Linked DNA regions of Homo sapiens. The protein of the gene in region 2 purifies or fractionates together with the protein of the main gene of each other region. This does not show direct contact. Each region holds a gene or a part of one and is shown on either strand. Other genes may lie near its edges. The genes, in order: ADCK5, ALDH1L1, AFG1L, PRELID3B, LYRM1, MTRES1 and COQ8B.

What was found.
Region 1: the proteins of ALDH1L1 (region 2) and ADCK5 purify together in Homo sapiens (co-immunoprecipitation; one large-scale study listed by IntAct). This does not show direct contact.
Region 3: the proteins of ALDH1L1 (region 2) and AFG1L purify together in Homo sapiens (co-immunoprecipitation; one large-scale study listed by IntAct). This does not show direct contact.
Region 4: the proteins of ALDH1L1 (region 2) and PRELID3B purify together in Homo sapiens (co-immunoprecipitation; one large-scale study listed by IntAct). This does not show direct contact.
Region 5: the proteins of ALDH1L1 (region 2) and LYRM1 purify together in Homo sapiens (co-immunoprecipitation; one large-scale study listed by IntAct). This does not show direct contact.
Region 6: the proteins of ALDH1L1 (region 2) and MTRES1 purify together in Homo sapiens (co-immunoprecipitation; one large-scale study listed by IntAct). This does not show direct contact.
Region 7: the proteins of ALDH1L1 (region 2) and COQ8B purify together in Homo sapiens (co-immunoprecipitation; one large-scale study listed by IntAct). This does not show direct contact.

Annotation. Positions count from the first base shown.
Region 1 is NC_000008.11:144,372,360-144,376,921, reverse strand, and holds the start of ADCK5 (uncharacterized aarF domain-containing protein kinase 5), read right to left. Parts: upstream 2,876-4,562; 5' UTR 2,827-2,875; coding exon 2,815-2,826; intron 2,097-2,814; exon of another isoform or gene 1,519-2,096; coding exon of another isoform or gene 1,285-1,518; intron 1-1,284. UniProt on the Homo sapiens protein: The function of this protein is not yet clear. It is not known if it has protein kinase activity and what type of substrate it would phosphorylate (Ser, Thr or Tyr).
Region 2 is NC_000003.12:126,159,887-126,163,696, forward strand, and holds part of ALDH1L1 (cytosolic 10-formyltetrahydrofolate dehydrogenase), read right to left. Parts: intron 1,117-3,810; coding exon of another isoform or gene 1,094-1,116; coding exon 967-1,093; intron 552-966; exon of another isoform or gene 399-551; intron 290-398; exon of another isoform or gene 197-289; intron 1-196. UniProt on the Homo sapiens protein: Cytosolic 10-formyltetrahydrofolate dehydrogenase that catalyzes the NADP(+)-dependent conversion of 10-formyltetrahydrofolate to tetrahydrofolate and carbon dioxide.
Region 3 is NC_000006.12:108,322,414-108,326,223, reverse strand, and holds part of AFG1L (AFG1-like ATPase), read right to left. Parts: intron 2,400-3,810; coding exon 2,176-2,399; intron 1-2,175. UniProt on the Homo sapiens protein: Putative mitochondrial ATPase. Plays a role in mitochondrial morphology and mitochondrial protein metabolism.
Region 4 is NC_000020.11:59,039,762-59,044,197, forward strand, and holds the start of PRELID3B (PRELI domain containing protein 3B), read right to left. Parts: upstream 3,026-4,436; 5' UTR 2,970-3,025; coding exon 2,938-2,969; intron 1-2,937.
Region 5 is NC_000016.10:20,899,046-20,903,620, reverse strand, and holds the start of LYRM1 (LYR motif-containing protein 1), read right to left. Parts: upstream 2,851-4,575; 5' UTR 2,732-2,850; intron 2,580-2,731; exon of another isoform or gene 2,159-2,579; intron 1,136-2,158; exon of another isoform or gene 904-1,135; intron 1-903. UniProt on the Homo sapiens protein: May promote cell proliferation and inhibition of apoptosis of preadipocytes.
Region 6 is NC_000006.12:107,045,182-107,048,935, forward strand, and holds part of MTRES1 (mitochondrial transcription rescue factor 1), read left to right. Parts: intron 1-3,754. UniProt on the Homo sapiens protein: Mitochondrial RNA-binding protein involved in mitochondrial transcription regulation. Functions as a protective factor to maintain proper mitochondrial RNA level during stress.
Region 7 is NC_000019.10:40,703,277-40,707,086, forward strand, and holds part of COQ8B (atypical kinase COQ8B, mitochondrial), read right to left. Parts: intron 2,172-3,810; coding exon 2,049-2,171; intron 1,906-2,048; coding exon 1,820-1,905; intron 580-1,819; coding exon 439-579; intron 347-438; coding exon 265-346; intron 1-264.

The DNA.
Region 1 (4,562 bases), on a different chromosome or scaffold from region 2:
CCCCTGCTTGGCGAGGTCACATGCAGCAAGTGCTGATTCACAAGGAAAACCCAAGGCAGCCGGGCAGCGACTCGTAGGCGGGCCATCCACCTGCTGCCTACCCAGCCTGCACCTCCTGACCCTAGCCACCTCTGGTGCCAGTGCATGCATGGCTAGAGGCCCCGAGATCAGGCAGTCGTGCCCACGGACTGTGGAGAGACTCTGAACAGCAGCTCGTAAGTGGCTGCAAGGGAGCTACCTCCAGGTGGCTATCCCAGCCACTGCCCACCTCATCCATGACCAGCAACGCAAGCTGTTTCCACAGGCTCCACCAAACAGGTGAGGCCAGGAAAGTCATGGCTGGCTGACTGCTGTCTCCAACAACAGTTTTCTGCTCTTTCCTCAGGAACCAGCATTGCAGAAGGGGCTCCAGCTGCGTCTCTCACTCCCATTCTTATCCAGGACAGAGATCCCTCCAGTAGACCCCGGGCCACCATCACCCTACCCTGGTCCACCAGCAGCCTTGCTCATGCTCACGTCCCGCTCCACCTTGTTCACCGTGGTCCTATCCTGCCACTGTCCTCATCACACACCAGCGTGACTGTCAACTTACGGAATCTGTCCTCCCACTAGACTGTGAGCAGGGCCACCTCTCAACCATCTCTGAACAAGCAGGCACTCAATGAATGCCTGCCGAATGAGACCAACAGCTGTGAAGCACAGGACTCAATTGAACCCCACATGGCCCTGCCAAGCAACAGGCACTGATAACCCACAGTGCCTGCCAGGGCCCATGAGGCTGAGCAAGAGCCTGTCTCCTCCAAATGTGGAGCGCCCAGCACACCCAGACTATCCTCTCTGAAATTCCCATCACACAGGAGAGGTCCCCAAGGCCCAGAGAGGTTATGGGTTGGGGGGCGAGCCTGCAGCTGCATCTCCCAGAAGGACTTCCCAGAGCCCAATCCAGGGCAATTCTCACGTGACACACAGCCCCAACCGCACCCAGAACACGACCTCTAAACTGCCAGAAGATAAGCCGTCTTTTAGACGGTGGGTCCCCAGGGCCTTCCCCCAACACACCTGAGACGGCCCTGGTGACACTTATCCCTGCAGCTCCCCTGACTTCCAAAGCCTTCCAGTTTGGACAAGATGAAACGGGTGCCCCCTGTCAGAACCTCTCATGCTTTCTTATGGTGAGTGTGTGCAGTCTGTCTGCACAAACGGAAACACCTCCCGTTCCAGAGTGACTCTAGACCACAGCTGACTACCTTGAAAGCGGCAAGTATTCTGAGTGGTAACACTCACACAGGTATCATGAAGTTCACAACCAAAGGGCGTGCTTTGGCCGCAGAACCACATGCATGTCCGATCGTGTCTGGTTTTCCAGCGCCTGCAGATGAGGAGGATGCAGCTCCCACAGACAGGCCCGGCCGCAGCAGTGAGAAGCAACTGCCGAGTCTCAGAATGATGCCAGAAACTAAAAACCATGAACGGATGACCAGAGCCTGGGGAACCCAACAGCACTGTGCACCTCAACATGAGGGGAAACTGAGGCACATAATTGTCCCCAAAGTTAGGAAGAGACAGATTGGGAGTCTGGGCAGGGTAAGTGGGTCTGGCGACCACAGACACTGTCCTTCTCCCAGGGTGTGTGACCCTGTCAGCCCCAGCCAGTCCTCAAACGCCGCCTGGACCCAGCCCTGCTCACTGGCCATGAGCAGCTCCTAACCAGAGGCTAAACCGACCTGTCCACTCGCTGGGGCTGGGGAGGGACTGAGTGGCCTGCACGTGGGAAGACTTTGTCACCTGGAAGGAGCTGCACTGAAGGCCACCTCCCCGGCCCATGAAGCACCCTGGGGTCACACAGCTGGGCTGGGGCACGAGTGGGCCGTCCATCTGTGCTATTTATAGCCAGACGGGCAAGGCTAGCTTATCGCCAAACACAAGCTCTGCTGACATTCCAAGAAAAAAAGGAACGGCGCTGGGAGCCCCTTCATCTCTTCTGGAAGGGGGTGGGTAAGATGCGTGTCAAGGCCTCTGCCCCGCCCCCCCGCAGTCCTAACCGCAGGGACAGAGCAACGGGACCCGGCGGCGACGTGGGAGCGGGGAGACGCCGAGAGCCTGAGAGAGGGGGCCTCGGAGCCATGGGGGGCGCGCCCCTGAGACGACGCAGGGGCGCTCAGAGCAGAGCCCGGCCTGCAGCCCCCGCCCGCCCGCCGCCTCAGGGCAGGGCAGGCCCGGCGGGGAGGCGAGCGAAGGAGGTCCGGGGCAGCAGGCTGGGCAGGGAGGCGTCCGTGATTCCGGGAGGCCGCCTCGCGAGGGGAACGGCGCCTGAGGCTTCCCCGCGGGGCCCCTGCCCTCTGGAGATCGCGCTCTCCGGGGCGCCGGGCACCCGCCTCCGGGCTGGGCGGAGGGGCCCCTGCGGCTCCCGGTGCAGGCGGCGTCAGGGCTGCGGGCGCGGCTCCCGCCTGAAATCCCAGCTCTCGGGGAGGCTGAGGCGGGCGGATCGCTAGAGCCCAGGAATTCGAGACCAGCCTGAGCAACACGGCGAGACCCCGACTCTGCTAAACAGAGTCGGCCGGGAGCGGTCACGCCTGCGGTGTCAGCTACTTGCGGGGCCGAGGCGGGAGGATCGCCTGAGTCCGGGAGGCGGAAGCTGCGGTGAGCGGAGATCGCACCACTGCGCTCCAGGGCGACAGAGCGAGACCCTGCCTCAAAAAAAAAGAGGGAAAAAGCCCCGAGGGTCTCTAGGGCGGGGTCTGGGGACTTGCGGGTCTCGGGTCTCTGGGGCTGGTGTGCAGGATCTCGGGCGCCCCGGGCCGGGAGAGTCCTCACCGGTCGCCACATCTCCGACCACTGCTCCGCTCTTCTCCCGCCCGGCGCCGCTTAGCGTCTCGCAGCCCAGCAGGCCCTGCGGGAGGGCGCGTAGTGCGCACGCGCCGGAGCCAGAGCCCCGCCCCGTGGGCGGTGGGCGAGGCTGGAGGCCACGCCCCGAGTCGTGCCGGCCTCCGCGGCGGGGCAGCGTCCCCTGGCGGCCCCCAGAGGCTTACCTTTTGGCGCCCGGACCGCGCCTCCTGAGAGCGGAGGGTTCCAGTCCCGCCCTCGGCGCACTGCGCATTCCCCGGGCAGGCACCTGCCGGAAGGACCGCTGTGAGAAGCACGTGGATAATCCGGGGAGGGCTGAGGGCTTCCTGAGGTCCTCACGGCCCGGTATCCGCCTCTCTTTAACACTCCGTGCTATAGTGTGATTAGCGTGAATCTCTTTAACCTCAGGACTCCAACTCACCACCTGCCTGTGTGAGGGCCAAGATGACGCCCCTGACTGGGAACTGGAAGACAACCAGGAGAGTGGCCAAAGGGGTCCTGGAGCAGCTCCCGTGCCCATGGGGAGACCTTCCCAGGGCCAGGGCTTCAGATTCTGGGGTTCACTTTGCAGCCACCCTTGGTCCCTGTCACTTAGCTTCTTATGGGAACGTCAGTGACGTCACAGCCTCCTGCAGTGCCCTAGGCTGCTGCTACTCACTCTGTGACAGCCCTGGCTGGGTAGGGGCCCAGGCCCGGGCATGCCATGCAGCCAGCAAGGCTACTGCTGGACTGACGACCTCACCGCTACTAGACTGACCTCACCGCTACTAGACTGACCTCACTGCTACTAGACTGACCTCACCGCTGCTGGACTGACCTCACCGTCCCCGAACATGCCAGGGATCCTCGGGCGCCAACACGGGTCCTGGCACTTACTGCCTGCAAGCCCTCCTAGACCCCACTGTGAGCATGAAACAAAACACCATCCTTGTGGAATCCACGAGGGCTCCTGAGTCAGCTTGGCCTAAGGGTGCCACAGTAGCTGAAAGTGGGAGGTTTTCAGGCCTCAAGGCCTTTTCACAACTCTCAGAAGTGGCCCCTCCTCCTCCCACCAATGGCCCCTCCTCCTCCCACCAGTGGCCCCTCCTCCTCCCACCAGTGGCCCCTCCTCCGCCCACAAGTGGCCCCTCCTCCTCCCACCAGTGGCCCCTCCTCCTCCCACCAGTGGCCCCTCCTCCTCCCACCAGTGACCCCTCCTCCGCCCACAAGTGGCCCCTCCTCCTCCCACAAGTGGCCCCTCCTCCTCCCACATGGCTCCTCGTCCTCATCTTCTTACAGTCCTCTTGCTCCTCCCACTGGGACTGAACCCAAAGGCATCTCTTCAATGGGGTGGTCCCTGCCTAGGGAAAGCCGGTGCCTCCAGCCCTTTAGTGCCCCTTCTGTTATGGCGTGTCTCCTGTGAAGTCTCTGTCATCCCCAAGGTCAAGTTTGCTGGGCTCAATGATTCTGTGTGCCCTGCATCACTTTGCTAGCAGGACAGGGATTGGCCTCCAGTCTTCAGTCCCTCATCCCCAAAGCCCAGACTAGAACTTCACAGATGGACCTGGGGCCCCTCCCGGAGCCGGGCTTTCTGGAGTGTTCTCATTTGCTAACATCTGCCTCCCTCGGCAACCTTTCCTCTGTAATGGAACAGGTCCAGAAGAGCCATGTGGGCTGACACAGTAAGGCCTCCAGGCATCTGTGCCGTGACGTGAGCAAAGTGTGAGCTGCATGGTGGG
Region 2 (3,810 bases):
GAGGGAGACTGGCTTTCCTTAACAAACTACACCTCTGTGCCTGGCCAGGCCTACAAGCCCCCTTTCCTAATCCTGGCCCTCTATCCTTAAGCCCTGCCCCACAGTCTGTCTCCATCAGGCCTGAGAAGGACCAGTCAGTGTTCCTAGAGGGTCTGTTCATCCAAGCTGAGGCCCCTGCATCCTGTCTGCTGAGGTTCCCAGCTCAAAGGCAGTGACCCAGACCCATGATTCTCAAAACGTGCTTTTCCTAGTACAAGAGATGCCAGTATCTCCCAGGAACTTGTCCCAGGTTAACAATTTCACCTAATTCTGACTTTTCCACCTCATTCTGAATCCGAAACTCTCAGGGTGCGCTTAGTACTCTCTGTGTTTTTTTCTTTTCTTTTACAAAATGCCAGGGGAGAGTGCAAATGCAGTTCCCCATTACCACAAATTATGAAGTCGAGTTTCCCACCTTTGGGGAAATTGCAGGGATCAGCACATCCAGAGTACAATGGAGAAGACTCGCCCTGGGAAAACCACCTTTGTGATCATGGTCTCTCCCCTGATGGGTAAGTAGAGCACTATGTGTTTTGACGGCAGCCCCAGCAATGGTGATGCCGCGCATGCCCACCTTTCAGAATATGGACCCCCAGTTCAGAACATGGAGACCTTCCCAATCATGGGTGCTGGGTCAGAGAAGCTCTGTGTGGGACCTGGGACCAGGCTGGGCTTCTCTATAGCCCTTCTCCAGGACCCTAATGCCACCCCATGATCAGGTGGGGAGGGGATCTCCAATTTATTCCAGAAAAGCCCAGCAGCCTGTTGGCACTGGAGCAGGATTCAAGGTAGACCACTTATGGCTGCCTCCCAGCTAGAGCACAGGCCCTGCAGACTTCTGCTCCCAGACTCCCACCTACTGCTTCCCTTCTACCTGGATGGGCGGGCCGCCCTCCATCAGCTTCCCTGCTCCATTGGCTCACTCACCCAGGGGGTCGGCCTTTCCATCCTTGTCTGGAACAGTGAACACACCCACCACTTCGTGGCCCTCCTTCCTCAGGTGGCAGTAAACTTCCTGGCCAAACAGGCTCTGTCCAATCACTGCAATCTTCATGGTAGCAGGAGGGTTGGAAGGACCTGGAGAAGGAATAAGGCAGCAATTAGACAGAGATCGCTGGTCTCAGAGAAGCCAGCCCTGGTTCAAGACAGGGCAGTTCATGGCACCTGGCCTGCTCTACCCCAGTCCCCTCTGTGGCTCTGTGGGTGGCAGGCCACTGAGGGGAGACTGCCACTGTAAGAGAGACCAGATGAAACATGTACACATGACCCAATGGATCCCTAATGTCAGAATATTCAATGCGACAGCAGGTGAGCTGGAAATGGATTGTAGAATTAGGGGATTTCTTTTTGAAACCTTCCAAACTGGCATGGAATGTTGGGTGTCAAGATGTTTGATATGTATTTGAGCATATTTCTGTAACTAACCAGTTCTATGGCCTTGGTCAAGTCACACTTGTTCATGAGAAAGATGCCACATCTCTCAAATGGCTTTCAGCCTACAAATTAGGCTTATTCCTCTGAGCCAGGAGTCACAAAAGGAGCAAGGGGAGTCCCCGCCGAAGGGGCTGTCCAGCTGAGCTGCAACAGAAAAGGGGCCTGCGTGGGGGCGCCTGAGGATGAAGGTGGTGGAAAGTGGAATGGGATTCCACTAAGGAAGATGTGTAGAATGAAGCCTAGCTAATCATGCACATTCTCCAAAGATTGGTCATTCATTCACCTCACGCATATCTGTAAAACCTGAACTATTATTCACTTAATACAGTTCTTTAAATTGTCCTTTTACGAAAATAAGATTTTATTTTGGAAAATTTTATTAAAGTAATGTGTACTTCATACATACAGAAAGTGCACAAATCATAGATGTGTAGCTCAATGAATTTCACAAACCAAACACACCACTGTCAACACCACCAGAAAGAGAAAAACTCCAGGAACTCTTTGAGCCTCTTCTAGTCACTACATTCACCAAGAATGATGGGACTTCTAACAGCATCGAATGGTTTCGCTTGATATATATATATATCCCCTTTATATGTATTCATTTTACATAAATGGAACCATGCAGTGTTTTGTAGATTTTCTCCCTCAACATTATCTTTGTGGTTGCATGTAGTTGTACTGAGTTTATTCTCATTGCTGCAGAGTATTTTGATATGTGGATGACCTCTAGTTCATTTATTCATTCTATTGTTAATGGAATTTGGGTAGTTACCAGTTTAAAGGTATTACAAATAGGATGCTACAAAGATACTTGCACATGGTCTTCATGGTACACATGTACACATCTCTGTCAGGTGTGTACTTAGGGTGGAATTCCTGGGTCATAGGTGTGAAAATTTCCAGCTTTAACAGACGCTGCCAGTTTTCCAGAGTGGTTGTATTAGTTTCCACTTCCATGTGCTCTCCACTTTGGCTTGTGTCTTCATTTTAGCGCTTTTCCTAACATGAAATACAGCTGTCTCATTGGGGTTTAATTTGCAATTCCCTGATGACCAATGAAGTCGAATGCCTTTTCCTGTTTCTTGGCTATTTGGATATCCTTTTGTGGGAATCATCTCTTCAAATCTTTTGTCTGTTTTTTTCCATTGGGTGGTTTTATTCTTATTGAAAAGGAGTTTTTTTGTATTGTTGCTCTGTTTTGTTTTTTAATCATCTAGACTTTGAGCTCTTTGTCAGATATGTGTATGGAAAATATCTTCCCTAATTCTGTGGCTTGCCTTTTTCATCCTCGTATAATGTCTTTTGATGAACAGATGTTCTTAAACTTAATATAGTACATTTTATCAAACATTTCCTTTATGTTTAGTGGTTCTTGTATTCTATTTAAAAAATCTTTGCCTACTCCAACTTCATGAAGATGTTCTCCTTGTCATTCAAGATCTTTATTGTTTTGCCTTTTACATTAGATGTGCAATCCCTCTGGAACTGATTTTTTCATACAATATAAGGTAGAAGTCCAGAATTTTTTTTCCATCTGCATATAAAATTAACCCAGCACTAGTTACTGAAAAGACGTTTCTTCATTGAAAAGGATCATACATGTACACATCTATCTTTGAAACTTTAGTCAGTTTGTCTATCTTTGCATTTAGTATAGCTTAAAAATGTTTTTTGTTGTAGTGGTGAAGATACATAACCTAAAGCTTTATTGTAGCTGATCTACCTAGTAGTTGTGAAGTGGTATTTCATTGTGGTTTTGATTTGTATTTTCCTATTGAATCATGATGTTAAACATCTTTTCATGTGCTTTTTGGCCATTTGTATACCTTCTTTGGAGCAATGTTTATTCGAGTTTTGACCCATTTTAAAAATTGGTTTGTCTTTTTTGTTGCTAGCATATAGAAATACAATTGATTTTGTACACTGACGTTGTATTAACTAGCACCTTAATTGCTTCACATATAAATTTTCATACTGTGTAGATTCTTTGTGGTTTTCTAAGTATAAAATCATGTTATGATGTTGGTTTTAATTCTTTCTTTCTAATCCTGAAGTCTTTCATTTCATTTACTTTCTTATAGCACTTGCCAATATATCCACTACAATATTGAATACAGATGGTGATAGTAGTTCCTGTCTCATTCCTGTGACCTTGGGAAGAAACCATTCAATATTTGACCATTGGTTAGCTTTGGGGAATTTTGGTAGATAGACTAGCATATTATGAAAGTTGTCTTATTAATATATTTCTGGCTGCCAATCATGACAAGGAGTTGACTTTTACCAAATGTTCTTCCTATAGGTCATGAGATTTTTATTTTATTGTGGTGG
Region 3 (3,810 bases), on a different chromosome or scaffold from region 2:
GATGCATGCCTGTAGCCCTAGCCTACTCAGGGGGCTGCGGGAGGAGAATCACTTGGGCCCAGGACTTCAAGGCTACTAGTGAGCTATGATTGTGCTACTGCACCCCACCTGGGTGACAGAATGAGACAGTATCTCCAAAAAAAAATAGGCCAGGCACAGTGGCTCATGTCTGTAATCCCAGCACTTTGGGAGGCCGAAGCAGGGGGATCATTTGAGATCAGGAGTTCAAGACAAGCCCGGCCAGTATGGCAAAACCCCATCTCTACTAAAAATACAAAAATTAGCCAGGCATGGTGGCAGGTGCCTGTAATCCCAGCTATTTGGGAGGCAGGAGAATCGTTTGAACCTGGGAGGCGGAGGCTACAGTGAGCCAAGATATCACACTACTGCACTTCAGCCCGGGAGACAGAGTAACACTCTGTCTCAAATAAATAAATAGGTCAGGTGCAGTGGCTTATGCCTGTAATCCCAGCACTTTGGGAGGCCGAGGTGGGCGGATCACCTGAGGTCAGGAGTTCGAGACCAGCCTGACAAACATGGTGAAACCCCATCTCTACTAAAAGCACAAAAATTAGCTAGGTGTGGTGGTGTGTGCCTGTAATCCCAGCTACTCAGGAGGCTGAAGCAGGAGGACTGCTTGAACCTGGGAGGTGGAGGTTGCAGTGAGCCAAGATCACACCACTGCCCTCTAGCCTGGGCAATAGAGCAAAAATCCATCTATAAATAAATAAATAAATACACACTAGTCACATCCATGCAGGAATTAGGTTTAAAAAAAAAAAAAAGGCAAAACAGCCCTAAAACCAAAGTGAAACTGAAGAAAGTGATCAAGGTAGAAAGTTAGCTGGGTAGAGTGCCATGGTGTGCCCTTCAGATATCTCGTAACAAATACGAGGGGTTCCCAAGAGAAGCATCCAAAGAGATGAGGATTGAATATAAATTGAGATGGACATCGCTCTCCCCAGCTGGATGCTTGCCTAGGTAAGGAAATGCACAAGCAGCTGCCAGAGCAGAGTGTGGAAGAGTTCATGGGAGAACTTGATATAAGTCCCCAGGAGAAAGGGGTATGCATGACAAAGACAGAAACCAGTGCCTGCTTCTTGCTTGCAGAAGTCTGAGGACAGGAGGCTGACTGAGGCTGCCCATGCAGCAAGGGGTGGCGAAAGGAGATGTTATGTTTCCTGTGGCCTGCACGGACACCATAAAAGATGACCCAATAAGAAATGTCCCAGGCCAGGCACAGTGGCTCACACCTGTAATCCCAGCACTTTGGGTGGCCGAGACAGGTGGATCACTTGAGGTCAGGAGTTCAAGACCAGCCTGGCCAACATGGTGAAACCCCGTCTCTACTAAAAATACAAAAATTAGCTGAGTGTGGTGGTCCACGCTTGTTACCCAGTTACTTGGGAGGCTGAGGCAGGACGATCGCTTGAATCCAGGAGGCAAAGGTTGCCAGGAGCCAAGATATCGTGCCACTGCACTCCAGCCCAAGTGACAGAGCGAGACTCTGTCTCAAAAAAAAAAAAAAAAAGTCCTGAAAGGACCCCACCCAAGAAGGCTAAGGGCAAGAGCAAGGCGGTGTCGGCAGAATGCAGGGTTGTGAGTTGCTTCCCCAGAGTCATAAGAGGTTAGTCAAAGACTGGAGAAGTGTGGAGGTCCCCATGGGAGTCTTGAAGAACCCACCAATAAGACCCTCAACAAAGAGCTAGCACGTCAGCATCTACCATACAAAGGCCCCAGTAACTAACTGGTCACTTAAGGCTGCTGTTTCACTCTAATCTTTCATTCTTCTCATTCTGACCCTAGAGATGTCAGGCAAACAGAGAAAGAAGGAGGAAGAAAAGGGAAAGAACACATCACTCCTCCTTTTCCACTGCTGATCCCTGGATGAGGCCTGAGCTAGAGGAAAGGGAAAGCTTTAATTTCCATAGAAGTTTTTATTTAGACTGGACTGCATTTTTTAAATACCTAAATATGAAGCTATTCAAACCCCTGAAGGCAAAAGAAAGCTATGGAACATCAAAAGGCCAGGAATGGGGATCCAACAGAATTTGTGTAAAGGAACTGGTGAAAATTTTTCAAGATGTTTCATGATTGTGTCCTACTGCATTGCATCCATTTTAGAAAATGCTTACACTTTTAACTGTTTAATCTTTCATATCACACAAGCCTCACCTTTGAAAAAAGGCCTTCTGCCTCTATATTGTATCCTTTAAGGTCCTCGTGTAATTTCTGCAAACACTGTATGACTCTTCTTTGATGTTCATCATCCTTTAGCTCATGAGCTTTGATCAGAAAATCATAGTGGTCCAGAGGTCCATGGCAAACGGCCAAAGCTTTCAAATAAGTCTCTGAAGTGGCAGTTGGGGTCATGCTCTCGGATGTCTGAACCGTATAGGCTATAAACAAAAACATAAAATTTTAGACTTTCTTAAATACATTTTCACAGTGCTCTACACATTTCTTAAGGGTCAAATTCAAACTTTTAACTAGTTACAAGTATATCTATTGGAGCAGTTTTTGTAAATGTCATTTTGATAAAAATAATATAAAATACATTTTCAGCCAGGCATGGTGGCTCACGCCTGTAATTCCAGCACTTTGGGAGACCAAGGCAGGCAGATCACTTGAGGTCAGGAGTTCAAGATCATCCTGGCCAAATGGTGAAACCACATCTCTACTAAAAACACAAAAATTAGCTGGGCATGGTGGTGCATGCTTGTAATCCCAGCTACCTGGGGGGCTGAGGCACGAATTGCTTGAACCTGGGAGGCAGGGGATGAAGTGAGCAGAGATTGTGCCACTGTACTCCAGCCTGGGTGACAGAGTGACACTCGGTCTCAAAAAAAAAATAATTAAACAATGAATATATTTCTAATTGTTTTATTTTAACAAAAGGAAACAAACCCCAAACCCATAAACTATAATTGTAACCTCTCTTCCAGAAGGCCTATTCCTACTACAGCTTCTGCTTTGCTTCCAGTCCACTGAAGGAGACACTGGGGTTCCTCATCTCCTTCCCAAAGCAAGAGAGTTGCCTTTCTTTGAGTAAACCCTAATTCTGGTTCTTAAGCACCAAGACAAAGACGTGAAGACTAGTCCCAAGGGTTTTCCACTGTTCCTTAATTCTCTACTCAAAGACAACATAACATTCAGATATTACCACATCGATTTCAGCCCTCTGCTTCTGAGATCTTTTTCTGTTTTCCATAACCTTTACGGAGTTGGACATGGAATTGAGACACAGCAAGAGTGTCTGCTTCAAAGCAGGGTGGTGTTCTGATCCTATTTTTGGCCTCTCCTGGGAGAGAAATGATTGTGGCGAGGTCCAACCATAATTCCATTCCTTATGTGGGGCAGGTTTAATAAGCAGCTAACTCCTTCTCTACTGTTTAGAAGCAACAATAAACAGCAGCAACCTGGCACATTTTTCAGAACAAGATTTCCCAAAGGTACTCTGCCAGCATTTTATTCATTTCATTGAACATCATGTTTCCTTTGTCACAATAACATAAAAATTACTTTAGCAAAAAGAATTAACAATCACAATGTTAGGTCCATGTTTTCCCCAAAAGAGGGGGAAAAGTCCTTAAATATATCATGAATGTTGGAGATAGGGACGGCTGTCTTCCATTATTTGTTCCACCTTTCTAAATAGAAGTTTTAGCTGGATGCATGGCTGCCCAGACACATATTACATCTCCTGGCCTCTCTTGCAGTCAGGTATGGCCATGTGAGCAGGTTCTAACAATGGGATATGAGCAGAAACGTGTGTAGTTCTGACATACCCCATTAAAGGAAAAGGGCATA
Region 4 (4,436 bases), on a different chromosome or scaffold from region 2:
TCTCAACTCCATTAATTTCCCAGAACCCTGGACAACCAGTGACATCATTTTTAATGTTTTCATTATAATATTCTTTTCTATACAATATTGTACCAATGAACCTCATTCTGTCTTTAGTCTCCAGCCTTATCCAGCAATCAATGCAGGTATATAAGCAGAGTTGCTTCATCAATCTGAAGTGTCCCGACAAATCGAAGCATACAGGCCAAGCACTGATTCTTACCAAGGCAACTCTCTAAAATGAAAATCAGATGAACCCTCCCCAGGTCTCCATCCAGTCATATGCCATGGTTAGCTGGCTTCCATGCCCTTACCTCTTCCCCCAACCCTCTCTAAAAAATTAATAATCGCATGACTTCAGGGTGGTTATGCATTATTTGTAATTTAGTCCATCTCTCCTTTCTGAACCAACTTGAAACCACTGATGTTGACTTAGCTTGGCTCAAGATTGCTTTATGAACCATAACCAGCTCAAACATTACAAACAATACTTATTATGATTAATCTTCCAGCAATTAATCTGAGCTGTATTAACATAATTACGTGGAAAAGATCTCACAATGGAAGACATTCAAAGACCACGCCAAAGTAGAATCAGGAGGACCTGGCTATGGCTCACTGACCGGTCCAACTTCTTCACCTTTGAAACGAGGTGAGGACATTATTAACTCCACTGGCGCAGCATCGAGGTCTTGATTTACTTATGAAAATGTAATCAATCCAAAGAACAGTGGCTGACACATACTGGGCATCTCTATAAGTTGAAGGAATCAATGAATGACTTCACCTGGATGCCAACTATAGGCCTCAGAAGAAAAGTGTTGGAAAATCAAAGACAGATAAGATGTAGAATGATGACTTAGACATTGTTAGAGAGTGACATCCTAAAGATCAGAAACAACGCTCAGATTTGTCAGGGGAGATGATGACTTCAATTTCAGACAGGCTGAGTTTTAAGGGCCTGTGGGACACGAGGGTAGCAATGCCTAACAGGCACCTGAAAATGAAAAGCGGAGCTCAAGAGAGGCTGGAGCTCAAGGTACAGATCTGGGTGCCATAAATGTATACCTATCATTTGGGACTTTGACCAAACAGCTCAGATTATGTGGGGAGAAAGCACGGATCAGGGCTGCTTCTCCCAGGACAAAAAAAAAGTCTGTGACGAAAAGAGAAACAAAAAAGAAATTAAGATCACAGGTAAAATCCAATATAGGAAGGCCAACACAGAATCTCACTGAACATTTACACTGAATGGGAAAAGACAGGGAAGCGCTGAAGACAAAGGCAGAAAGAGTGTAGAGGGAAGGAGGGGATGAGCCAGGAAGAAGAGTTAGGGAAGATATGGGAGAAGACAGTTCTAGGGAGACTGAGTGCCGAGAACCTCTGAAGCATGCAAACCCAGAAGAGGACTGAAGCATGCAAACCTGGAAGAGGACTGAAATTAAACATCCTCGGAGCTGAAATGGACTAGTGATGAATGCGACCAGGTTAATGAACATCTAAATGACCACAAATTTCGGGTCTTTTTCCTCCCAAAAAGACTAAACAGTAGGGGGAAAAGAAAGCTTCCTTCTGATTCCAGTATTCTATACTTTGCAGGATACAGCAGGCCCTAGGATGTGTCCCACTGAGTACAAATGCGGACAACGTTTTAAAAGTTGCCTTCAGAGGCCGGGCACAGTGGCCCACACCTGTAATCCCGGCACTTTGGGAGGCCAAGGCGGGCGAATCACCTGAGGTCAGGTGCGACCTGACCAGGGCGAATCACTTTGAGACCAACCTGACCAACATGGTGAAACTCCGTCTCTACTAAAAATACAAAAATTAGCCGGGCGCGGTGGTGGGCGCCTGTAATCCCAGCTACTTGGGAGGCCAAGGCAGGAGAATCGTTTGAACACGGGAGACGGAGGTTGCAGTGAGCCAAGAACACGCCACTACTCTCCAGCCTGGGCAACAGAGCGAGACTCTGCCTCAAAAAAGAAATTTAAAAAAAATTTGCCTTCAGAGACAGTTTTAAAAACATAAATGGCTTTGTAGCATATTTATTTACAAGGCTATACTAATTAAAACAGTGTGGCAACGACATTAAGATCAGCGGAACAGAGCAGGTAACTCGGGAAAAAAAAGGATTTCGCTGCTTAAATTTGTGGCTCTTTTGTAAATGGAATCAGGGACCTAGAAGAGAATATAATTCTCCACATCCAACTGGTTCAAGGCTTAGTTTCGTTAGTAAACAGTTCACATTATCCAAAAAGATGTTCCTGAACGTGGCCTCAAAGAGCTAACACGGGTAGGCCCTGACGATCGTCCTTTTCCATCTCTCAGATGAAAATGGGTAACCCAGGGTCACACGCTTGTTACAGCCAGAGCTAGACCTTGAATTCCAAATCCAAGGCTCTGCTGCGTAGATGAACGAGTTGTGAAAAGGCTTCACATCCTGGTGGTCAGAGTTCACCCGAAATTCACATTCGAAGGTAGAAACTCCACCCAAACGGCGGCCAGGGAAAGTACACTCTGGAGAAAACCAACACCTCCCTCTTGGGATCCTCGGGTCCACGTCCCAAAGTGGTTTCACAGGGCGGGATGGGGCAACCCTGAGTGCTGTCAAGGGCTTCGTGCTCCGCGACGCCCCCAGGACCTCAGGAGGCCGCCGGCCCGAGGCTACCTCATGGTGGGGGACAGCCCGGAAGTGACCCCGTAGCCCTGCCGGTCGCAAGGCCGCCTGGGTCTGGAGGTCGGAGCCGTCCCCTCGGCTAGGGCGCCTCGGGGTCGTGACCTTGGTCTGCCCTCCGTGTCGCCGGGGCCCGCAGGCTTCAGAGTTCGCTCCCCTCGCTAGGCCCGACGCCTAGAAGCCTCCTGCGGGCCGCCTCTGCCTCGCCTCTACTCCAGGGCCGGCGTGCCTGCCCTCCACGGAGCCGACCCGCGCCCCAAACTTACTCAAAGACGTGCTCCGAAGTCCAGATCTTCATGGTGCCGGCACCCTGAGAGATGTCCGGGTAGCGCCAGGGGACAACGAGGCACAGAGGCTACACCTGCCCCTGCCCCGCCCCCAGCACCCCAGCCGGCGGCGCAGTGCGCAGGCGCTGTCGGGCCCGACGCGAGGGACGTCCAGACGCGCGGCCCCACGCCCTATCCCGGCCCGGGTTTTGCCCCAGCCTTGCGCGCGGCGCAAGGAAACCCCGCCTCTTAGCGCCGGGCGCATCGCGCCGGCGCAGTGCCGCCGACGGCAGCTGGAGGGGCCGGCGCGGGCGCTGTGCTGCGCAGGCGCGGCGGGCTTGTAGCGAGCCTTGACCTCTGGGCAGAGTTGGGTCAGGTCCAGGAGGTGCCTGCGCGCCCGCTTGGCCCTCCTTGTCCTTCTGGCCCAGCACATCCTCGCCTGGCATTTCGAGGCGTGTGGACGCATGCGGTCAGCCTGCTGACATAGATGTTCGTTGTGGTGGTCACTTGTGCAAAATTTCCTGGTGCCCTATAGAGAGTTCCAGCCACCTCCTGGGTCAGCCCGGGCTGTTTTCCCAAATCCACCAGCCACCCAGCCGATCAGCTGGGCCAGTCCCACCTGCCCGCCAGGAGCTTGCAGCCCTCGGAGGGGATAAATAAGGCGTGACGCGGAGAAGCTAACATCAGACCTGCCCATGAATAATACCCCTACGAGGGATGCGGTCCGGAAGCACGGTGCCAGGGGTCGGGTAGAAAAGCTTCCTGGCCGGGCACACCTTGCCCTAGGTGCATAGGATGGATCTGAGCTGAGATGTCTCTCCCAGAGAGACTTCCCTCGTCACCGTTTCTCACCTTGTTGCTCTGCTCCGTCACAATATCCTGTTGCATTTTTTATAGCACTTACCCCTCTGACATCATCTTGTTAATTTATTTGTGAAAATTCACAATCGAACTGAGTTCTTGAAGGCAAGAATCTTGCCGGTCTTGCTCAAAAATCATCCTCAGTGTCTCCCATATAGTCAAGGCTCAATGACTACTTATTGAAAAATGAAAAAAATCAATAGCTATTTGTGGGATGAATGAATTAATGGAGTCATCTAGTTTATTTGTTGTAACTTCCGCTAGACTGTAAGCCCCTGAGGGCGAGGCTCTTGCCAGACTTGTTCAGTGATTTCCCCCTTCCTAAATGACAATTATTTGTTGCATCAATGGATGAAAGAATGACTAAGAATTGCTGGGGCAGGAGGAGGTGGCATGTGGTTTCATTCAGAGATGAGCCTTGTCCAGGGAACAGACTGCCTGGCTTAGCTTTCAGAATATGGCTTCCCACCCTGCTCTCCTGCACTCTCCACAGCCGTCTACCTCCTAACAGAACAATTTGCCATTTTCAATGAAGGTTATGGAGGAAAATCTTTACATCTAGTTACTTAGAAGCTTGTTAGAAGGACCACCTCATTCTTGTTCTTAGCTTGTTTGATTGTTAAAGACAAAAAGCCAGG
Region 5 (4,575 bases), on a different chromosome or scaffold from region 2:
TACATAGTACCCTCGAGTTCCTCCAGTCCAATGCTGACCAAGATAACTTTCTGTGAAGGAAAGGTTCTATCTGCTCTGTCCAATAGGACACACACCTGTCACAGGTAGCTACTGGCACTTGAAACATACTGTGTTGGAGGAACTGAATTTTTATTTAAATAGTCACATGTGGTCAGTGGCTACACAGGGATAGCACAGCCCTAGACCAAGAATTGCAAATCAAATGCCCACAGGGGTCAGCCAGGTAGCAGGAGAGGAGAGGCCTTTTTGGCAAACCCTGAGCATGAGCCACATAGACGGGAGACAGCTCTTCAGCTCTGGCTGACAGTTGCTGTGTAGGAACCTCTAGGAACTTCAGGCTGGTGTTGTCAGATTGTCGGATTTTTCAAATGAAGCCCAAAGTCTGGATTTTGATGTCCAATTTTTAAATGTTGGCAAGTAAATTTAAAAAAGAATTTAAATCACTGTGTGGGCTGAACAATATGTTTGCAGGCAATATCTGTCTTGTCAGTATGCAACTTCAAATCTAGGCCAACCCTTCAGCTCAGAGAGAAGAGCTTTATCCATGGCCACTCTGCTGGTCAGTGGCAGATCCAGGATTGAAACCCAGGCCTTCTTATTCATCTTCTGATACCCTTTACACTATATTGTGGAACTGATCGTAATTGTGGTGGGCTTGGCAGCAGTGGCAGGGACAAAAGCCCCTTTTTGTGAGAAGCTGTTGGATTGTATGGCTGATACCTTATGAACACAGTGTTCCTGCCCAGCTACAACCACCATATGGACAAGGCTCTGTACCAGGAGCCAGGAAGACACAAATAAGAAACAGTACCTGGGGGAGACAGCCATATAAACAGACAATTTATCCAAAAAGTCAGGTTTTCTATAACGGACACAAATTACCTGAGCACAAGTCCAAAAGCACTGACAGCTGGGAGAGGGAGGGAGGGAAGAGATTTGAGCCAGGACTTAGCTTCTACTTGCTGCGGGTAGAAGCTGGCAAGCGGGTGGATGAGATTCACTGATTACGGGGATGGGTCCCATTATTCCAGGATATTAAGGGGCCTCTTCCTTTGATCTCTGAGGTCTTGTCTGTGTCGTCTCCTTTGCTGGCTTCTCCTTCTCTGGGTACTCTCTAAATGGTAAGAACCCAAGGGATTTAGGGGTCTTCCTCTTTTATTTACACGCTCTTCTTAGGTGATCTGGGAGCTCCTCCCTGCCTTCCTTATTTATTATCTCCAACTATGATTTTTCCCCGACTTGTATATCTAACTTCTTGACAACTTCATTTGACTTGTTAATAGACTTATCAAACTTAATATGTTCAAAAGAGAACTTTCGATATTCCTTTCTAAACTGTTTTCCCGTAGGGAGTTAACCTTGGTTCCTCCCTCTCCTACACACTTCACATCCAATTCCCCAGCAAGTCCTGCAAGCACTACCTCCCAAATATATGCTGAATGGAATTCTCTCCATTTCCACTGTGACTGAGGGCCTTTTCTTTTTTCTTAAGACGGAGTCTCACTCCGTTGCCCAGGCTGGAGTGAAGTGGCGCGATCTTGGCTCACTGCAACCTCCACCTCCCGGGTTCAAGCGATTCTCCTGAGTAGCAGAGATTACAGGCGCGTGCCACTACGCCCAGCTGATTTTTGTATTTTTAGTAGAGATGGGGTTTCACCATGTTGGCCAGGATGATCTCGATCTCCTGACCTCGTGATCCGCCCGCCTAGGCCTCCCAAAGTACTGGGTTTATAGGCGTGAGCCACCGCGCCCGGCCGGCCCTTTCAACACTATCTTCACCTCTCCTTTGTCTTACAGTGCAACAGTCTCCTAACAGGTCTAACTACTTCCACCCTTCTCTATCCAGCAGGCAGAGCGGATTTTTAAAAATGTAAATCAGGTCAGGTCACTTCCCTTCTTAAAACCCTTAAGGTACACATTAGCCAAACCCCTGCCTTGGGCTAAAAGGCGCTGCTACAGTCATGCCACTTCCCCAACTACATCACAGGGCACTCCGGCCCTGGCTCTGTTTGCTTCAGCCACATGGCCTTCTGGCTGTTTCCAACCTAAAAGTCCTTCTCATTGGCTCTTCTCTCCACCCAGAAAACCCATTGTCTCGGATCCCCGCAAAACCGTGGCCTCCTTTGAACGACCTTACCCGATTTCGAGGGGCCCTCCCCCCATCTTCTGTCACCTCATCCGGTCTTTGGGGGGCATTTCTCACTTGCTGATACCTTCTTTATTGATTTACTTAACTCTCTCCTGCACACGAATGGAAGGTAACGGAGCAACACCCTACTCTCAGGTTTGAAGAGCAAGAGAATTACGAAGCTGGCTCTCACGGTCCTAGGGAGTCTCCGTTCCTGTACGGGACCTGGTGTGGGTCAACGTTCCCCAGCCAGACACCTCTCGCCCCCGGACCGGCCCCTACCATCTCCCATTTACATTCGGGGGTCCAAAAGATTCACAGCCTCCGAGGGGGCCCCACGCCGGCACCTGAGCGTCCCCACACCAGGCCTCCCCTCTTGGACGCGCGAGCCACTTCCGTGAGGCAGGTCCCCGAGGCCGGTGGCGATGACACCGAGCCGCCCCCGCGAAGCTGGGGTCACACAGGCCCGTCTCCCGGCAACGCCGCAGCCCAACCTCCAAACCATCCCTGCCCGTGGGGAGCCAACCCCTTCCCCGCCAGTCTCCCGCGCCTGGAGTCGGCGCCTCCATCCCCTACACTCACTCTGCGTCAGTCCTGCCTTCCCCCACCCACAGAAGCGCGCAGCCCGCGGCGGGCTGGGAGGAGGCGGCGCCAGGAGCCCAGCAGAGCCGTGGCCGACCGAGCACAGGCTGGTCCAGTAGGCCAGGCCGGACCAAACCACCGGGCCCACCTCTGTGGGAGCACCAGTTCCAGGTCTGGGGGAGTCTCGACTGACTGACTCTACCCATCTCCCGCCGCATCCAACAATAAGCTGAGCTCCTCCTCCCCCTATTTTTCCTTTACGCTTTCATTATCCTCCCCGCTCCATTCCCGTAAAACAAGAAAAAAAAATGGTCCAGCCCAGCTCCCTCCGGGTTGCTAGGTCTTTGCCCTTACTTGGCGACGGCTTCGTACGTCTTTATGTGCGTCGTGACGCAATCTTCCACTCGTTCCCTCCTTGCCCCTCTCCCATTCTCCCTCCTGGAGCTGGCGGCCGGCGGGGTTACCGGAAGTGATGATGCAGGAGGCGATGGAGGGGGCGGGGCTTCGGGGCGGCCGCCGCCGGTGGGCCGCAGATGAAGAGGAGGCGGTGGCAGTGGTGGAAGAAGAGGCGGCGGCGGCGGGGGTAGGGAGCCTGGAAACGCGAGCGGGGATGGTAGGTGGTTTGGACCCGCCGGGCCGCCGTCGTTTCCAGAAAGGGTTTGACTGGAGGAACCTCTGGAGCAGCTGTGAGTTTTGGGGAGGGGGGGAGTTGAGGAAAAGGCGGGGGGGCATTGAGAGATGAAGGGGCGGGGGTTGGGTACCTTCGAGAAAGGGGGGTGGAAAGGGAGGAGTGGAAGTCAGCGCGTTGTCTGGAGTGGTACCTCTGAAAGAAGAGGCTGTGAGGGGAGCCTGTGGCGTGTCAGCCGCAGGGCTCAGAAAACTTACCTACTGTCCCTGCCTCCCCACCGCCAGCACCCCTCAACCCAGGGCCTGGGGATATGGGGTTGGAGCTGCCCTGGAGGGGGTGCAGACTCTGGTCCTCTGTCCTGGGTGAGCGCTGTGAGGTAGGAGCCCTAGGGGGAGGTGGTGGGTGAATCTCCCAGCTCCCTCCGCCCTCATTTCCCTCCCCACCCCCATCGTTCTCTTTAATCATTAACAGCCCTGGAATTAAGGGGCTCAGACCTGAAGGCCTTTTTGTGCACCTTTGCTATAAACGATAACCATCTGTGTCCGAGGTAATGAGGCTGGAGGCTTTGCCTGTATCCTCTATAGGAAGTGGGACGGGGTGACAAATGTATTGTTTGTTCCTCCACCACACCCCCCGCACTTCTCACCCCTCATCCTCCCCCATGCACACCCCTGGTTTCCACTTTAATTCTCTGTGGCTGAGTGGCAATAGTGGATTTTTTTTTCTTCCCCTTTCCTCCTTTATGGCACTTAGTGCCTTGGTTACCTCTTTTGAATTTGGTGTTCAGCCTCTATCCCAGATCTTAACTGTAAGCTTTGTAATACTTCATACAGGCTGTCACGTTGGGAGTACCTCTTACGCTCCGATTATAATGAGCATTTTCTTTTATGAATACTGGAATTCCAGAGCCTTTGCAAGGAATCCTGAATGGCATCATAGCCCAGGAATCAAGGTCTCTTGCTCGAAATACTTTATGTGTGAGGAATTTACATGTTGTCAGCTCTTCCCAAAATGATTTGCTAGGCTAATTCTGGATTTCTGTGTTTCTCTCCACCCACTTTTCATGATGCACTTCAGAGAACAGAAAACCCCATATTACTTTTTTGTTTCTACAATTGGACAATAGCTCTTTTATGTTTTTCTCCATTTATGTGTGACACACAAATCATCAGTGACACGTTCAGCTTGTGCTGATTTTCATCTTTACGTAGCTGAT
Region 6 (3,754 bases), on a different chromosome or scaffold from region 2:
CTCAAAAAAAAAAATTCTGGCTGGGCGCAGTGACTCACACCTGTAATCCCAGCACTTTGGGAGGCCGAGTCAGGTGGATCACGAGGTCAGGAGATCGAGACCATCCTGGCTAGCACAGTGAAACCCCATCTCTACTAAAAATACAAAAAAAAATTAGCCGGGTGTGGTGGTGGGCGCCTGTAGTCCCAGCTACTTGGGAGGCTGAGGCAGGAGAATGGCATGAACCTGGGAGGCGGAGCTTGCAGTGAGCCGAGATCGTGCCACTGCACTCCAGCCTGGGCGACAGAGCGAGACTTCGTCTCAAAAAAAAAAAAAAAATTCTGTTAGAAAATATTTTTTTGTAAAAGTAAGTTACGTATATATATACATCTGGAATTAAAATACTGCTGTTACTAGCATTTATCTTTAATTGAAGCATTATGGGTTATGTTAATTTCATAGTTTTTATTTTCTGAATTTTTTTACCATGAGTATGTATCACTTTCATAATGGAAAAAACAATACTGATAATAAAAGTTAACAAAACACAATAAAAAGTTATGACAGAGACCCTTAAAAAGTGTGGAAGACACAAGACACGAGGTATTGGAAGACATAATCTAACTCAGTGTTCAGGGAACAAAGGTTCCAGAGAAGTTAGACATACTTTGGAGATTGTTTTCATTTCATCTTTCATATTTCAAAATACCCCTGGGGTTGGAGGATCCGAACTACATCCGGTTGCCCTAGGACATGGGAAATTGAGGCTGTCGGCTGTCAGCCGTGCATTTGGGTGAGCACTGAGGCTTCCTGCAGTCCTTGCTAACTGGGATCATGCAGGTTCTTGTAGCTCTGTGGGCAGAAGGAGGGAAAACTCCCCCAAGCTGTCTCAGCCCCCAAGTCCCAGGGCCCTGGTGATGCCCCTGACTTGAACCGGCAGGCTGGGACTGTGGCTGGCTGTCAGCAGCTATTGCTCAGTGAGCTACATGCAGTCATAAGCCCTTCTCATCTCTGAATAGCTTTTTCCTGCTGTAGCCTGCCCTCCTTCTAAGCTGCAGTATTCCAAAAACAAGATGTATTCTTGGAGTAAAGAATGATTACTCCCTGAACACCCTGTCTCTGTGCTGGGGCCTCATTTACAAACCCCACTAGACTATTTTTCCTCACACCCCTCCCACCCGCCCCCGTTTTGTGATGTTGTTAACTACAGCCTAATTGCTGCTGCTTCATTCTGCCTTGGGTGTTCTGTTGTCTCAGCTGCCTTCCATGTTTCTTGTGAGGGTCAGCAAAGGAAGGGGGCATTATTAACGCTCAGCTGTCTTGTTACTAGGAGGCCTGGTAGCCATAGAAACTGCAGCTAACTAGAGATTTGAAATGTAGATATTTGGAACAGCTCCTAATCCCAGCCAGTTTTGCTTTGTGTCTGCTGAGGGACAGGGGCCGTGGAGGGGAATAAAGAATGCCTCGCCTTCCCTGGTCTGCTCTGTGGAGCCTGTGCCTGGCTGCTGACCCCGAAGGGTCAGGTGCTTGTCTGATGCTGCAGCTCTAACCCTGGCTGTCTGCGATTCAGCAAAGCTTTTCTTTGAGCTGAAAACCAGGTGAAGCCCAGGGTGTGGTAGGTGTTGGGTAACTGTTGATTAAACAGTGGGTGTGTGGTGTCCAAGTATGGGGATTGAATCCTTCCTAAACTCATCTCTTCCTGGGATCAGTTGGGTAAAGGAGGAGCACCCCTTCTCTGTGCTACAAGGAAGCTCCAAAGGGATTCATTCTTGTGTGTGTGTGTGTGTGTGTGTGTGTGTGTGTGTGTGTGTGTGTGTATTTTTAGTAGAGACGGGGTTTCACTGTGTTAGCCAGGATGGTCTCGATCTCCTGACCTTGTGATCCACCTGCCTCGGCCTCCCAAAGTGCTGGGATTACAGGCGTGAGCCACCACACCCCGCCAAAGGGATTCATTCTTTAGCCACACACTAGCCTTCTCTATCCAGAGGCAGACATCATGCACAGTATCTCTATGAAAGGATATACACAGAGTATCCTTTTCTTTGTATATTTTTTTTTTCTTTTTCTTTATTTTATTTTGGAGACAGTGTCTTGCTCGGTTACCCAGGCTGGAGTGCGGTGGTGCAGCCACAGCTCATTGCAACCTTGACCTTCTGGGCTCAAGTGATCTTCCCACCTCAGCCTCCCGAGTAGCTGGTATGACAGGCACACCACCACGTCTGGTTAATTTTTTATTTTTTATAGAGACAGGGTCTCACTGTGTGGTCCAGGCTGGTCTTAAACTCCTGACCTCAAGTGATCTACCCACCTTGGCCTCCCAAAATTCTGAGATTGCAGGCATGAGACACCACACCTGGCCTATACACCTTTTCTTTGTCTACCCTTTTGTATCTTCTAAATTTTGTATCATATGCATATATTACTTATTAAAAATGAATTGTAGGCCGGGCACAGTGGCTCACACCTGTAATCCCAGCACTTTGGGAGGTCAAGGCAGGTGGAACACTTGAGGCCAGGAGTTTGAGACCAGCCTGGCCAACATGGTGAAACCCCATCTCTACTAAAAATACAGAAAGTTACCCGGGCATGGTGGCAGGCTCCTGTAATTCCAGCTATTCAGGAGGCTGAGGCAGGAGAATCGTTTGAATCCAGGAGGTGGAGCTTGCAGTGAGCCAAGATCGCGCCATTGCACTCCAGCCTGGGCAGCAGAGCGAGACTCCATCTCAAAAAAAGAAAACAAACAAAAAAAGAATTTTAGCTGAGCAAGTTGGTGTGTGTCTGTAGTCGCAGCCACTTGGGAGGCTGAGGAGGGAGTGTCGTTGAGCCCAGGAGTTTGAGGCTACAGTACACTATGATTATGCCTATGAATAGCCACTGCATTCCAGCCTGAGCAACATGTGAGACCTCATCTCTTTAAAAATAGTAATTTGAATGAAATAAGGTTATACCAAAAAGGTAAAGCAGAGTTCCCAAGCCTTGTATTTCTTTTTTTTGAGACAGCCTTGCTCTTGTTGCCCAGGCTGGAGTGCAATGGCACGATCTCGGCTCACTGCAACCTCTGCCTCCCAGGTTCAAGCGATTCTCTTGCTTCAGCCTCCAGAGTACCTGGGATTACAGGCACCTACCATCACGTTCTGATAATTTTTGTATTTTTAGTAGAGACGGGGTTTCGCCATGTTGGCCAGGCTGGTCTTGAACTCCTGACCTCGTGATCCACCCTCAGCCTCCCAAAGTGCTGGGATTACAGGTGTGAGCCACCACGCCTGGCCTGTATTTCTAGACGGATTTTTTAAAATGTCCACATAGGCTGAAGTAGTCATTTTAAAAAATTGAACCCAGGGTTGGGCGCGGTGGCTCACACTTGTAATCCCAGCACTTTGGGAGGCCAAGGCAGGTGGATCATGAGGTCAAGAGATCAAGACCATTCTGGCCAACATGATGAAACCCTGTCTCTACTAAAAATACAAAAATTAGCTGGGTGTGGTGGCACATCCCTGTAGTCCCAGCTACTTGGGAGGCTGAGGCAGGAGAATCACTTGAAACTGGGAGGTGGAGGTTGCAGTGAGCCGAGATCACACCACTGCACTCCAGCCTGGTGACACGGTGAGACTCCATGTCAAAAAAAAAAAAAAAAGAAAAAAAAAATTGAACCAGCAGAACTACAGAAGGGTGGAACCCCCCCACCCCTGCCCAGGTACCTGTGTTGTCCTATCCCTCAAACCCAAGGGGAGAAACAGTCTTGACAATAGCTGTGGTATGAGCCTTTCTGCTTCTC
Region 7 (3,810 bases), on a different chromosome or scaffold from region 2:
ATGCACACCCTCTGAGAGTCTGCTGCTGTATCTTGGCCCTGGGCTCCCGTCTCTCTAAGGCTCTGTTAAAATCCATAAGGCTTTTCCCACACCTGCTCATGCTCCCTGGGCTCTCCCCGCCTTGGTGTCCTTTCTGTCTCTGACACTCCCGCTCACAACGCCAGCACACCCTGCCCGTGCTCTCCTCTGGGCTCCCCCTCCTGCTTTCTCTCTCTGGGCATAGCCCCTTTGGGAGGTCAGCAGAGGAGTGGGTGGGCGCCTCACCCGCGGGCAGGGCCGCGCTCATCTTGAGTACCGCCAGCAGGTTCTGGACATCGCTCTGAATGCTCTGGGCTATGCCGGGGTACTGTAAAGGGAGAAGGGAGGGAGAGAAGGTGGGAGTCACTTCTCTGGGCTAGCAGGGTGCCCGCCCCTACCCTGCCCAGCCTCCCCTCTCACCTGGATCTTCACGGCCACCTCCGTCCCGTCCCTCAGCAGGCCCTGGTGCACCTGCCCAATTGAGGCAGCGGCAAAGGGCACCTCCTCCAAGGAGGCCACCTTGGCCTGCCAGTCCCTGCCGAGCTCCTCTTCAAGAACTCTCTGCGGGGAGTGGTCACAGCCATCATCATTGTGGCAGAGTTCATTCCCCAGGCTGAGTGCTTTACGTGTTGATAACCCCAGCACTCACCACATGCAGGGCCCTGGGCTAAGCTCTTGGCTGCCACCCCCTTTGCAGATGAGGAAACTGAGGCTCAGAGAGAGCTCCCTTGTGCAAGTGACTAGCCAGGCACTGGCAGACTGTGAGGCTCAGCCTAGCCTGTGTCCCCTGAACCTGGACTCCCTGGGCTGTTGTGGGGATTGCTATTATTTATAGTTAAGACTCATAACAATCCTTTTTTTTTTTTTTTTTTTGAGACAGGGTCTTGTTCTGTAGCCCAGGCTGGAGTGTAGTGGCACTCTCACGGCTCACTGCAGCATCAACCTCCCGAGCTCAAGCCATCCTCCTGCCTCCTGAATAGCTGGGACTACAGATATGTGCCACTGTGCCCAGCTAATTATTACTGTTATTATGTTTAGTAGAGACAAGGTCTCACTATGTTGCCCAGGGTGGTCTGGAAGTCCTGAGCTCAAATGATCCTCCCACCGCAGCCTCCCAAAGTGCTGGGATTACAGGCATGAGCCATTACACGTGGCCAACCATCCTTTATTATGCTCTTATATGTTATTATTAACTCACAGTTACTGTGATCAAGAAGAGCTAAAATTTACAATGGGCTTCCTGTGGGCCAGGTCCTATTCAGAGTGGCCCAGAGAGAGGCAGTACCTGCCTGGGGCCGCATGGCGAATAAGCAGAACAGGGATGGGAGAGCAGGTGGGTGGCGGAATCCTGGATTCCATGCCTTACCCAGTTATTAGAACAGCTCATGTCCTGGGCACTTACTTGGTGCCAGGCGCCGTGCCAACCTATTACAGACACGATCTCCTTTAATTAAAAAAACAGTAATAATCACAGCTAACACCTGCATGTTGCTCACAGTGAATCAGGGGCCGTTCTCAGTGCTCAGTGTAAACTGATTTATGTGACCCTATGATGTGGGTGTGGCTGTCACTATCGCCATTTCCCAGGGAAGGGAACTGAAGCACAGAGAGGTCAGGCTGCTGTTCCCTGTTTTAATCACCACAGCAATGCTAGGAGGTGTGTACTCTGGTGATTCCCATTTTACAGATGGGGAAAGTGAGGCTCAGAGGCAGGGAGTGGGGCAGTGAAGCCAGGAAGGTCAGGCAGGTCAGAGGAGATGGAGCCTGCCTCCCTCACCGCCCTCCCCCACTGGGCACTCACCAGCATCTGCCAGCGGGGCATGAAGTCGGCGCTCTGGCGGACCCGCTCAAAGATGTGCTGCAGCTGAGGGCTGATGAAGCTGTTGTCTTGGGAGACAGTGGAACCAGGGGGGAAGTAAGCGAAGAGGTGAGGAGGGACCCCGTGTGAGTATCTGAAGTTGGGGCCTGTTGGTGGGTAGGGCTGGGGTAGAAGGGAGGTCAGGGGTCAGGAGTCGAGGGTCATGCTGTACCCTGGATGCTGAGCATCTGGCCAACCTTGAGGGCGGCCCCTCGAACTGTACATAAGGTCTGCACAATCCGCTCGGCATTGGCCTCCGACAGGAAGGGGCTGGAGTCCAGCCCAGAACCACCCTCTGGGGAGAGAACAACCATTAGAATTATAACCACAAATATCATCACTGCGGCCAGGCCCGGCGGCCCACGCCTGTAATCCCAGCACTTTGGGAGACCCAGGCGGGATGAACACAGGAGTCTGAGACCAGTCTGGGCAACAGTGACATCCTTTCTCTATTAAAAAAAATATATATCATCTGCACACCAACAGGAATGGCTAAAACGAAATACGGAGGCCAGGCTTGTTGGCTCGCGCCTATAATCCCAACACTGGGAGGTCAATGCAGGAGGATGGCTTGAGTCAAGGAGTTCCAGACCAGCCTGGATAACAAAGCAAGACCCTGTCTCTAATTAGCTGGGTGTATGGTGGCATGTGCCTGTAGTCCCAGCTACTCAGGAGGCTGAGGCAGGAGGATTGCTTGAGCCCTGGAGGTTGAGGCTGCAATGAACTGTGATCGCACCATTGCACTCCAGCCTGGGCAACCAAGCAATACCCTGTCTCGGGAAAAAAAAAAAAAAAAGAAAAGAAAGAAAGAAAAATAAACATAAGTTAAAACAAATTGCAGGAGAGTCAAAGAGTAACTACTACAGTATTGAATAGATGAGCTATCACTACACACAACAGCCCAGGTGGGTCTCAAAAATGTAATGCTGAGTGAAAGCAGCCGGGTGCATGAAATCATCACCCAGTTACACTGATATAAAGAGCAAAACAAGGCCAAACAAATCCAGGGTCCAGGAGCCAAGACAGAGGTCACCCTTGGTGAGGGGAGTGACCAGGTGGGGACATGAGAAGGGCAACGATTCTCGAAATGTGGGCCAGGGACCCCTGAGGGTCCCTGAGACCATTCAGAGGGGTCTGAGAGATCAAACTATTTTTATCGTAACATTAAGATGTTATTTTCCCCTTTCTGCTCTCATGCGTCTAAGAACATTCACTGGAGTTCTCCAGAGGCTCCAGGACATGTGAGGACACCATCAGACTGACAGCTGATGGAATGTGTACGTGTGTACTCTTGTGTTTTAAAAATATCTCTGTATTTTTGTTGTGTTTTTGAGACAGTGTCTCACTCTATCACCCAGGCTGGAGTGCAGCGGCACAATCATGGCTCACTGCAACCTCCTGGGCCCAAGTGATCCTCCTGCCTTAACCTCCTGAGTAGCTGGGACTACAGGTATGCACCACCATGCTTGGCTAATATTTTTACTTTCTGTAAAAATGGGGCCTCGCTATGTCACTCAGACTGGTCTCAAATTCCTGACCTCAAGGGATCCTCCCGCCCCAGCTTCCCAAAGTGTTGGGATTACAGGCGTAAGCCACCGCACCTGGCCTAAAAATTTCTCAGTTTTAATTTCTAATATGGTAGACATTGATAACTATAATCCACATAAATAAGCTCTTTGGAGGCTCATTCTAACAGTTTTATTGAGAAATAATTCACATACTGTTATAATTCACCATTTAAGTTATATAATTCAATGATTATTAGTATATTCACAGAGTTGTGCAAGCATCACCAGAATCAATTTTAGGACAGTTACACCACGCAAAAAAGAAACCTGGCTGGGAGTGCTGGCTCATGCCTGTAATCCCAGCACTTTGGGACGTCGGGGCGGGATCACTTGAGTTCATGAGTTTGAGACCAGCCTGGGCAATAT